Linked DNA regions of Homo sapiens. Changing the gene in region 2 together with the main gene of any one other region gives a genetic interaction. Each region holds a gene or a part of one and is shown on either strand. Other genes may lie near its edges.

Region 1 (3,820 bases), on a different chromosome or scaffold from region 2:
GAGGTGACCTGAATCTTTTCCTCTTACAGACGTAATGTATGTAGGGTCACCAGCAATAGGATAATGTTGACCAGGCAACGAAACCAAACATTAAAGACTGAATGTCTTAGTCTGTACAAAATAAACTTCGCCAAGCCAAATGCACTGATAGAATACCATTTATGCTGTCAGACAGTACCTATTTATTCTTTATTTGCATTCAGATCTAATAACTATTCTACCTAATATCTGTGACCACACAAGCTCCACGAGGACAGGAATTCTTGTGTTTTGTTCTCTGCTATGTAGACAATTATCTCAATTCTTGGCACATCATAAGCACTCAAATATTCAACGGTATTAGTAATGTTTTATTTCTTAACGAGTGGTTAGTATATGAGTGTTATACTATTCTTTTGTTGTTGTTGTTGTTGTTGTTTTTGAAGACGGAGTCTCGCTCTGTCACCCAGGCTGGAGTGCAGTGGCGCAATCTTGGCTCACTGCAACCTCCACCTCCCAGGTTCAAGCGATTCTCCTGCCTCAGCCTCCTGAGTAGCTGGGATTACAGGCATGCGCCACCACGCCTGGCTAATTTTTGTATTTTTAGTAAAGATGGGGTTTCACCATGTGGTCAGGCTGGTCTCAAACTCCCGACCTCATGATCCGCCCACCTCAGCCTCCCAAAGTGCTGGGATTACAGGCGTTAGCCACCGTGCCCGGCCTATACTAATCTTTATCTCTTTTGTCTTAATCATTTTTTTTTTTTTTTTTTTGAGATGGAGTCTTGCTCTGTCACCCAGGCTGGAGTGCACTGGCGCAATCTCGGCTCACTGCAACCTCCGCCTCCCAGGTTCAAGCAATTCTCCTGCCTCAGCCTCCAGAGTAGCGAGGACTACAGGCATGCACCACCAAGTGCGGCTAATTTTTGTATTTTTGGTAGAGATGGGGTTTCCGCATGTTGGCCAGGCTGGTCTTGAACTCCTGACCTCAGGTGATCCGCCCACCTCGGGCTCCCACAGTGCTGGGATTACAGGCGTGAGCCACCGCGCCCAGCCAATTGTAATATTTTTTAAAAGCACTAAATACATTTTACAAACCTCATAGCATTGCAATTATTCGGAAAGTCATCCAGAATAGAGTTACGAAATAAATATACAAAAATAGAACCTGAACTCATTCAGATTTATGACTTTTATTTTGTAGGGCACACCCTCAAGCTACCACTCAGCATTACTGACTCTCAACTCATACAAAATTCTCACAACCTTGGTTATCTGATTTCTCAAAACCACAATGAATCAAAGTGACTTTAAGAAAGCAGATATACGGATAGAAAAGATAGCAAATTCCAAAAGAAGAAATAAATTATTCTAAGAAAGCAAGGAAATATTAAGTTTTTAGAAAATTATATTTTCAATATTGCTAAGTTTGAGGGTCCTTAAAAGATAAATTACTTTATGGCCCTGGGCATGCTTTCAGATAAGTTATACATTCAATGGTTTGTTATTTTTTATTTTTTTCATATTTAATTAAATCAAGGGTTATTGCTAAGATCTCTTACTTTTATATCCTCTTAGATTATTTTATACTAACAACATTATATTCAAAGGTAATAGTGTCTCACTTATATAAATTTGCTAATTAACCTAAGTTGTTTTGTGGTTGTTATGGTTTTTTTTTTTTTTTTTTTTTTTTTTTTGAGACAGGGTCTCACTCTGTCGCCCAGGCTAGAGTGCAGTGACATGATCATAGCTCACTGTAACCTCCAATTCCTGGGCTCAAACAATCCTCCTGCTTCTGCCTCCTGAGTAGCTAGGACTACAGGCATGTGCCACGACCCCTGGTTAACTGTTCTTTTCTTTTTGTAGAGATGGGGTCTCACTACATTGCCCAAACTGGTCTCCAACTTCTGGACTCAAGCAATCCTCCCAACTCAGCCTCCCCAAGTGCTGGGATTACAGGCTTGAGCCACTGTGCCTGGCCTAACCTAAGTTTTAACACATAGTTTCATAATCAATCAACTAATCTGTATTGGGAATAGGAAGAAAAAATGAAAATAAACCAACCTAAAAAGTGATCAAAGTTTTATACTCATCAAATTATATAACTTATAGAGGCCTTAGAAATTGTGTACATAAACTCCCAATTTTATAAATGAATAAATTGAGGGCCAGTCGCAGTGGCTCATGCCTGTAATCCTACCACTTTGGGAGGCCAAAGAAAGTAGATCACTTGAGTCCAGGAGTTCAAGACCAGCCTGGGCAATGTGGTGAAACCTCATCTCTACAAAAAAAAAAAAAAAATACAAAAATTGGTTGGGCGTGGTGGCTCATGCCTGTAATCCCAGCACTTTGGGAGGCCAAGGCAGTCAGATGGCTTGATCTCAGGAGTTCGAGACCAGTCTGAGCAACATAGTAAAACCTCATCTCTACCAAAAATATAAAAAAATTAGCCAGGCATTGTGGCACACACCTGTGGTGCCAGCTACTTGGGAGGCTGAGGGGGGAGGATTGCCTGAGCCCAGGAGGTGGAGGTTGCAGTGAGCTGAGATCTTGCCACTGCAACTCCAACCTGGGCAACAGAGTGATATCTCATCTCAAAAATAAAAATTTTAAAAATAAAAAAAAATTACAAAAATTAGCCAGCTGTGGTGGCGTGTGCCTGGACAGAGCAAGACCTTGTCTCAAAAAAAAAAAAAAATTAATTAATTAAAAAAAGTGAGGTACAGCACTGTGGCTACATTACATGCTCCCTTGCTTCTCTAATATGTAAATTCTAGTATCTAACAACAGAGATTACTTTTTCAGAATAACATAAAATGACTAACAAACCTGTTTTAAACCAGGAACTTAAACAGAAATTTAATACTGCCATATAAAATCACCCCAAGGTGTTAATTGAGTCCTTAGGCATTTTAAGATGCTATATGAGATTCTGTGTATGATACTAAAAAGTTTTTAAATGACCTTTGTATTTGAAGATCATATGGCTGAGAAGACAAAGGGGAAGATTAAAAATAAAAAGTTAATATGTCAAGTGTTAAATTACAATATGGTCAGGTGCGGTGGCTCACGCCTGTAATCCCAGCACTTTGGGAGGCTGAGGTGGGCCAATCACTTGAGGTCAAGAGTTCGAGACCAGCCTGGCCAACATGGTGAAACCTCATCTCTACTAAAAATACAAAAATTAGCCAGGTGTGGTGGCACGTGCCTGTAATCTCAGCTACTCGGGAGGCTGAGGCACGAGAATCACTTGAACCTGGGAGGCAGAGGTTGCAGTGAGCTGAGATCCCGCTGCTGCACTTCAGCCTGGGTGACAGAGCGAAATTCTATCTCAAAAAAAAAAAAAAGTATTAAATTACAATAATACAAAAACAAAAGTTATGATAAAACTGAACAATATAAGCAATATGATAAATGAAGAGGTAATATATTAACTCAAAAGAGAGTAAGGCCAGGTGAAGTGGCTCACACCTGCAATCCCAGCACTTTGGGAGGCCAAGGAAGACGATCGCTTGAGGCCAGGAGTTCAAGACCAGCCTGGCCAACACGGAGAAACCCCATCTCTACTAAAAATACAAAAATTAGCCGAGTGTGATGGTGCACAACTGTAAGTCCCAGCTACACGGGAGGCTGAGGCAGGAAAATCACTTGAACCCAGGAGGTGGAGGCTGCAGTGAGCCACTGTACTCCAGCCTGTGACAGAGTGAGAGTAAAACAAAAATGGACTAGATTTGTCAAATAAGGCTTCGTAGATAATAATAGCTTTTTATATGAGTACTCAGTATACAAAGAGAAATGTGACTGATATGGAGAATGTGACAAGTGCCAAATATTTTCTT
Region 2 (3,820 bases):
TTTGCAATAGAACACACCCCTCCAACCCTGCGTGTCCGGAGTGGCCACAGGCTGCCCAGCCAAAGGCTACATTTCCCAGTGTGCGCTGCCAGGAGGGCCACGTGACTAAGTTCTCCCTCCAGGAATGAGAGTGATCATGAGGTGTGCAGCTACTGGGACATCCTCCCACCCTCTTCCCCGTCACAGTGGCTGGAACATGGATGTAGTGGGAGAGCCAACCACAAGGACAGGGACAACACTGGGCTCCCCAACAACCTTCCAGAGCAAAGCTGTCTGCCAACCCTGCACACTTGCCTATCTTCCAAAGCGTTATGTGGAGAAATCAATTTGTATCTTTCTTGGGCCACTGTGTTTTGGGGGCTCCTTGGTACAACAGCTTAGACCTGAAATAAGCATGGAAAAATTCTGAACTGATGGAGTATATGTTAGAAATGTTCAGGGAGGTTCATAACAGACACTCAGCATTAGAGAGGGGCCAGCTCCTGACAGACATGCAACACGGATGAATCTTGAAAGCAGGCTGTGCAGAAGGCAAAGTGCACACTGGGGGAATGAGGAGTGACTGCTTACGGAGTATGGGGTTTTCTGTAGGGGTGATGAAATGTTTTGAAACTAGACAGAGGTAATGGTTGTACAACACTGTGAACGTACCAACTGAATTCTTTGCTTTATTATTACTTTCTCTCTTTATTGAGACAGGATCTCACTCTGTTGCCCAGGCTAGAGTGCAGTGGCATGATCTCAGCTCACTGCAGCCTTGACCTCCCGGGCTCAGGTGATCCTCCCACCTTGGCCTCCTGAGTAGTTATGAAGACAGATGCGTGCCACCATGCCTAGCCAATTGTTTTTTGGTAAAGACGGGTTTTGCCATGTTGCTGAGGCTGGTCTGAAACCCCTGGGCTCAAGTGATCTGCCTGCCTTGGCCTCCCCAAAGTGCTGGGATTACAGGTATGAACCACCACGCCCAGCCATTGTTTGCTTTAAAATGGCTAATTTTACCTCCATAAAAATTGTACAATACCATTTAGACAAAGTTGTAGAATACACTAAAGTGATCTACAGCGCTAGAAATCAGACTAGTGGCTGCTCCTAGGGTAGGAGAGACTGGGAAGGGTATGAGGGGGTTTCTGGGGTGATAAAACACACTATACAGCTGACTGTACACTGGAGACCTGGGCATGGCACGCCATGTAAATGCCACCTCAATTATAAACATAAAAGTTTGGAGGCTCAATTCCACATCTAGGGACGTACACTGTAGATATATTATCACATAAGAAAAACTGCATTTATAAGGTTATTTCCGGAAGCATCGTTTGAAATCCCCAAGGACTGGAAACCACCTAACTGTCCTCCCCCAGGGGGCTATTTAAATATGTTAAGTCCGTTCAATGGAATACTATGCAACTGTGTAAAGGAATGAGGAAGCTCTTTGTGTACTGATAGGGAAGGTTCTCAAAGAGGCATTGTTCAGTAGATAAAGCAAGATGCACAGTGGTGCACTCACAATTTTATCTTTTGTGTTGAAAAACAATGTCTAAGAAAACGTTTACCCTGATTCTAGTCATTAAGAAACAAACAGCCTGGGTGCAGTGGCTCACGCCTGTAATCCCAGCATTTTGGGAGGCCAAGGAGGGTGGATCACTTGAGGTCAAGAGTTCCAGACCAGCCTGACCAACATGGTGAAACCCCATCTCTACTAAAATACAAAAATTAGCCAGGCGTGGTGGTGGGTGCCTGTAATACCAGCTACTTGGGAGGCTGAGGCAGGAGAATCACTTGAACCTGGGAGGCAGAGGTTGCAGTGAGCTGCGATCACGCCACTGCACTCCAGCCTGGGTGACAGAGCAAGACTCTGTCTCAAAACAAAACAAGAAAAAGAAACAAACGAATCCAAGGTGAGGGGTGACAACACTGGTCTGTAATCTTTAAAACTGTCGATGTCATGAAAAAGTAAGTTGCCTGGGCTAGGAGGCTCACGTCTGTAATCCCAACACTTTGGGAGGCTGAGGTGGGATGATCACTTGAGGCCAGGAGTTAGAAACTAGCCTAGGCAACATGGTGAGACTCCATTTCTACAAAAAATTAAAAATTAGTCAATCTCTACAAAAAATTAAAAATTACTTAAGCATGGTGGTGCATACCTACAGTCCCAGCTACTTGGGAGACTGAGGTGGGAGGATCACTTGAACCTGGGAGGTGAAGGCTGCAGTGAGCCATGACTGCACCACTGCAATACAGTCTGGGCAAGAGAGCAAGACATGTCTTAAAAAATGAAAAAGTTGCCATGACAATGTGTGTTATCCTAGGTTAGAACTTGGATTAAAAAAGTAAAATGATGGGCCAGGTGCAGTGGCTCACGCCTGTAATCCTAGCACTTTGGGAGGCTGAGGCAGGCCGATCACCTGAGGTCAGGAGATTAAGACCAGCCTGGCCAACGTGGTGAAAACCCCGTCTATACTAAAAAAAATACAAAAATTAGCTTGTCATGGTGGCGGGCGCCTATAATCCCAGCTACTTGGGAGGCTGAGGCAGGAGAATCGCTTGAACCTGGGAGGCGGAGGTTGCAGTGAGCCAAGATTGCGCCATTGCACTCCAGCCCGGGCAACAAGAGCGGGGGAGTGGGAAAAAAAAAGACCTCTCCCTCTCCCTCCCCCTCCCCCTCCCCCCTCTCAGTCTCCCTCTGATGCCGAGCTGAGGCTGGACTGTGCTGCCGCCATCTCGGCTCACGGCAACCTCCCTGCCTGATTCTCCTGCCTCAGCCTGCTGAGTGCCTGGGATTGCAGGCACGCACCGCCATGCCTGACTGGTTTTTGTATTTTTTGGTGGAGACGGGGTTTCGCCGTGTTGGCCGGGCTGGTCTCCAGCTCCTGACCGCGAGTGATCTGCCCGCCTGGGCCTCCCGAGGTGCCGGGATTGCAGACGGAGTCTCGCTCACTCAGTGCTCAATGGTGCCCAGGCTGGAGTGCAGTGGCGTGATCTCGGCTCGCTACAACCTCCACCTCCCAGCCGCCTGCCTTGGCCTCCCAAAGTGCCGAGATTGCAGCCTCTGCCCGGCCGCCACCCCGTCTGGGAAGTGAGGAGCATCTCTGCCTGGCCGCCCAGTCTGGGAAGTGAGGAGCGCCTCTTCCCAGCCGCCATCCCGTCTAGGAAGTGAGGAGCGTCTCTGCCCGGCTGCTCATCGTCTGAGATGTGGGGAGCGCCTCTGCCCCGACGCCCCGTCTGGGATGTGAGGAGCGCCTCTGCCTGGCCGCCACCCCGTCTGGGAGGTGTACCCAGCAGCTCATTGAGAACGGGCCATGATGACGATGGCGGTTTTGTCGAATAGAAAAGGGGGAAATGGGAAAGGAAAGAGAGATCAGATTGTTGCTGTGTCTGTGTAGAAAGAAGTAGACATAGGAGACTCCATTTTGTTCTGTACTAAGAAAAATTCTGCCTTGGGATGCTGTTAATCTACGGCCTTACCCCCAACCCCGTGCTCTCTGAAACATGTGCTGTGTCCACTCAGGGTTAAATGGATTAAGGGCGGTGCAAGATGTGCTTTGTTAAACAGATGCTTGAAGGCAGCATGCTCCTTAAGAGTCATCACCACTCCCTAATCTCAAGTACCCAGGGACACAAACACTGCGGAAGGCCGCAGGGCCCTCTGCCTAGGAAAACCAGAGACTTTTGTTCACTTGTTTATCTGCTGACCTTCCCTCCACTATTGTCCTATGACCCTGCCAAATCCCCCTCTCCAAGAAACACCCAAGAATGATCAATAAATACTAAAAAAAAAAAAAAAATAGTTCTCAAGAATAACTGTAGAATGTGCTAGGAA

Evidence for each region.
Region 1: changes in POLD1 (region 2) and COPS4 together harm fitness more than expected from each alone (negative genetic interaction), as found in Homo sapiens cells (one large-scale study listed by BioGRID).

What each region holds. Positions count from the first base shown.
Region 1 is NC_000004.12:83,041,377-83,045,196, reverse strand, and holds part of COPS4 (COP9 signalosome complex subunit 4), read right to left. Parts: intron 1-3,820. UniProt on the Homo sapiens protein: Component of the COP9 signalosome complex (CSN), a complex involved in various cellular and developmental processes.
Region 2 is NC_000019.10:50,390,538-50,394,357, reverse strand, and holds part of POLD1 (DNA polymerase delta catalytic subunit), read right to left. Parts: intron 1-3,820. UniProt on the Homo sapiens protein: As the catalytic component of the trimeric (Pol-delta3 complex) and tetrameric DNA polymerase delta complexes (Pol-delta4 complex), plays a crucial role in high fidelity genome replication, including in lagging strand synthesis, and repair.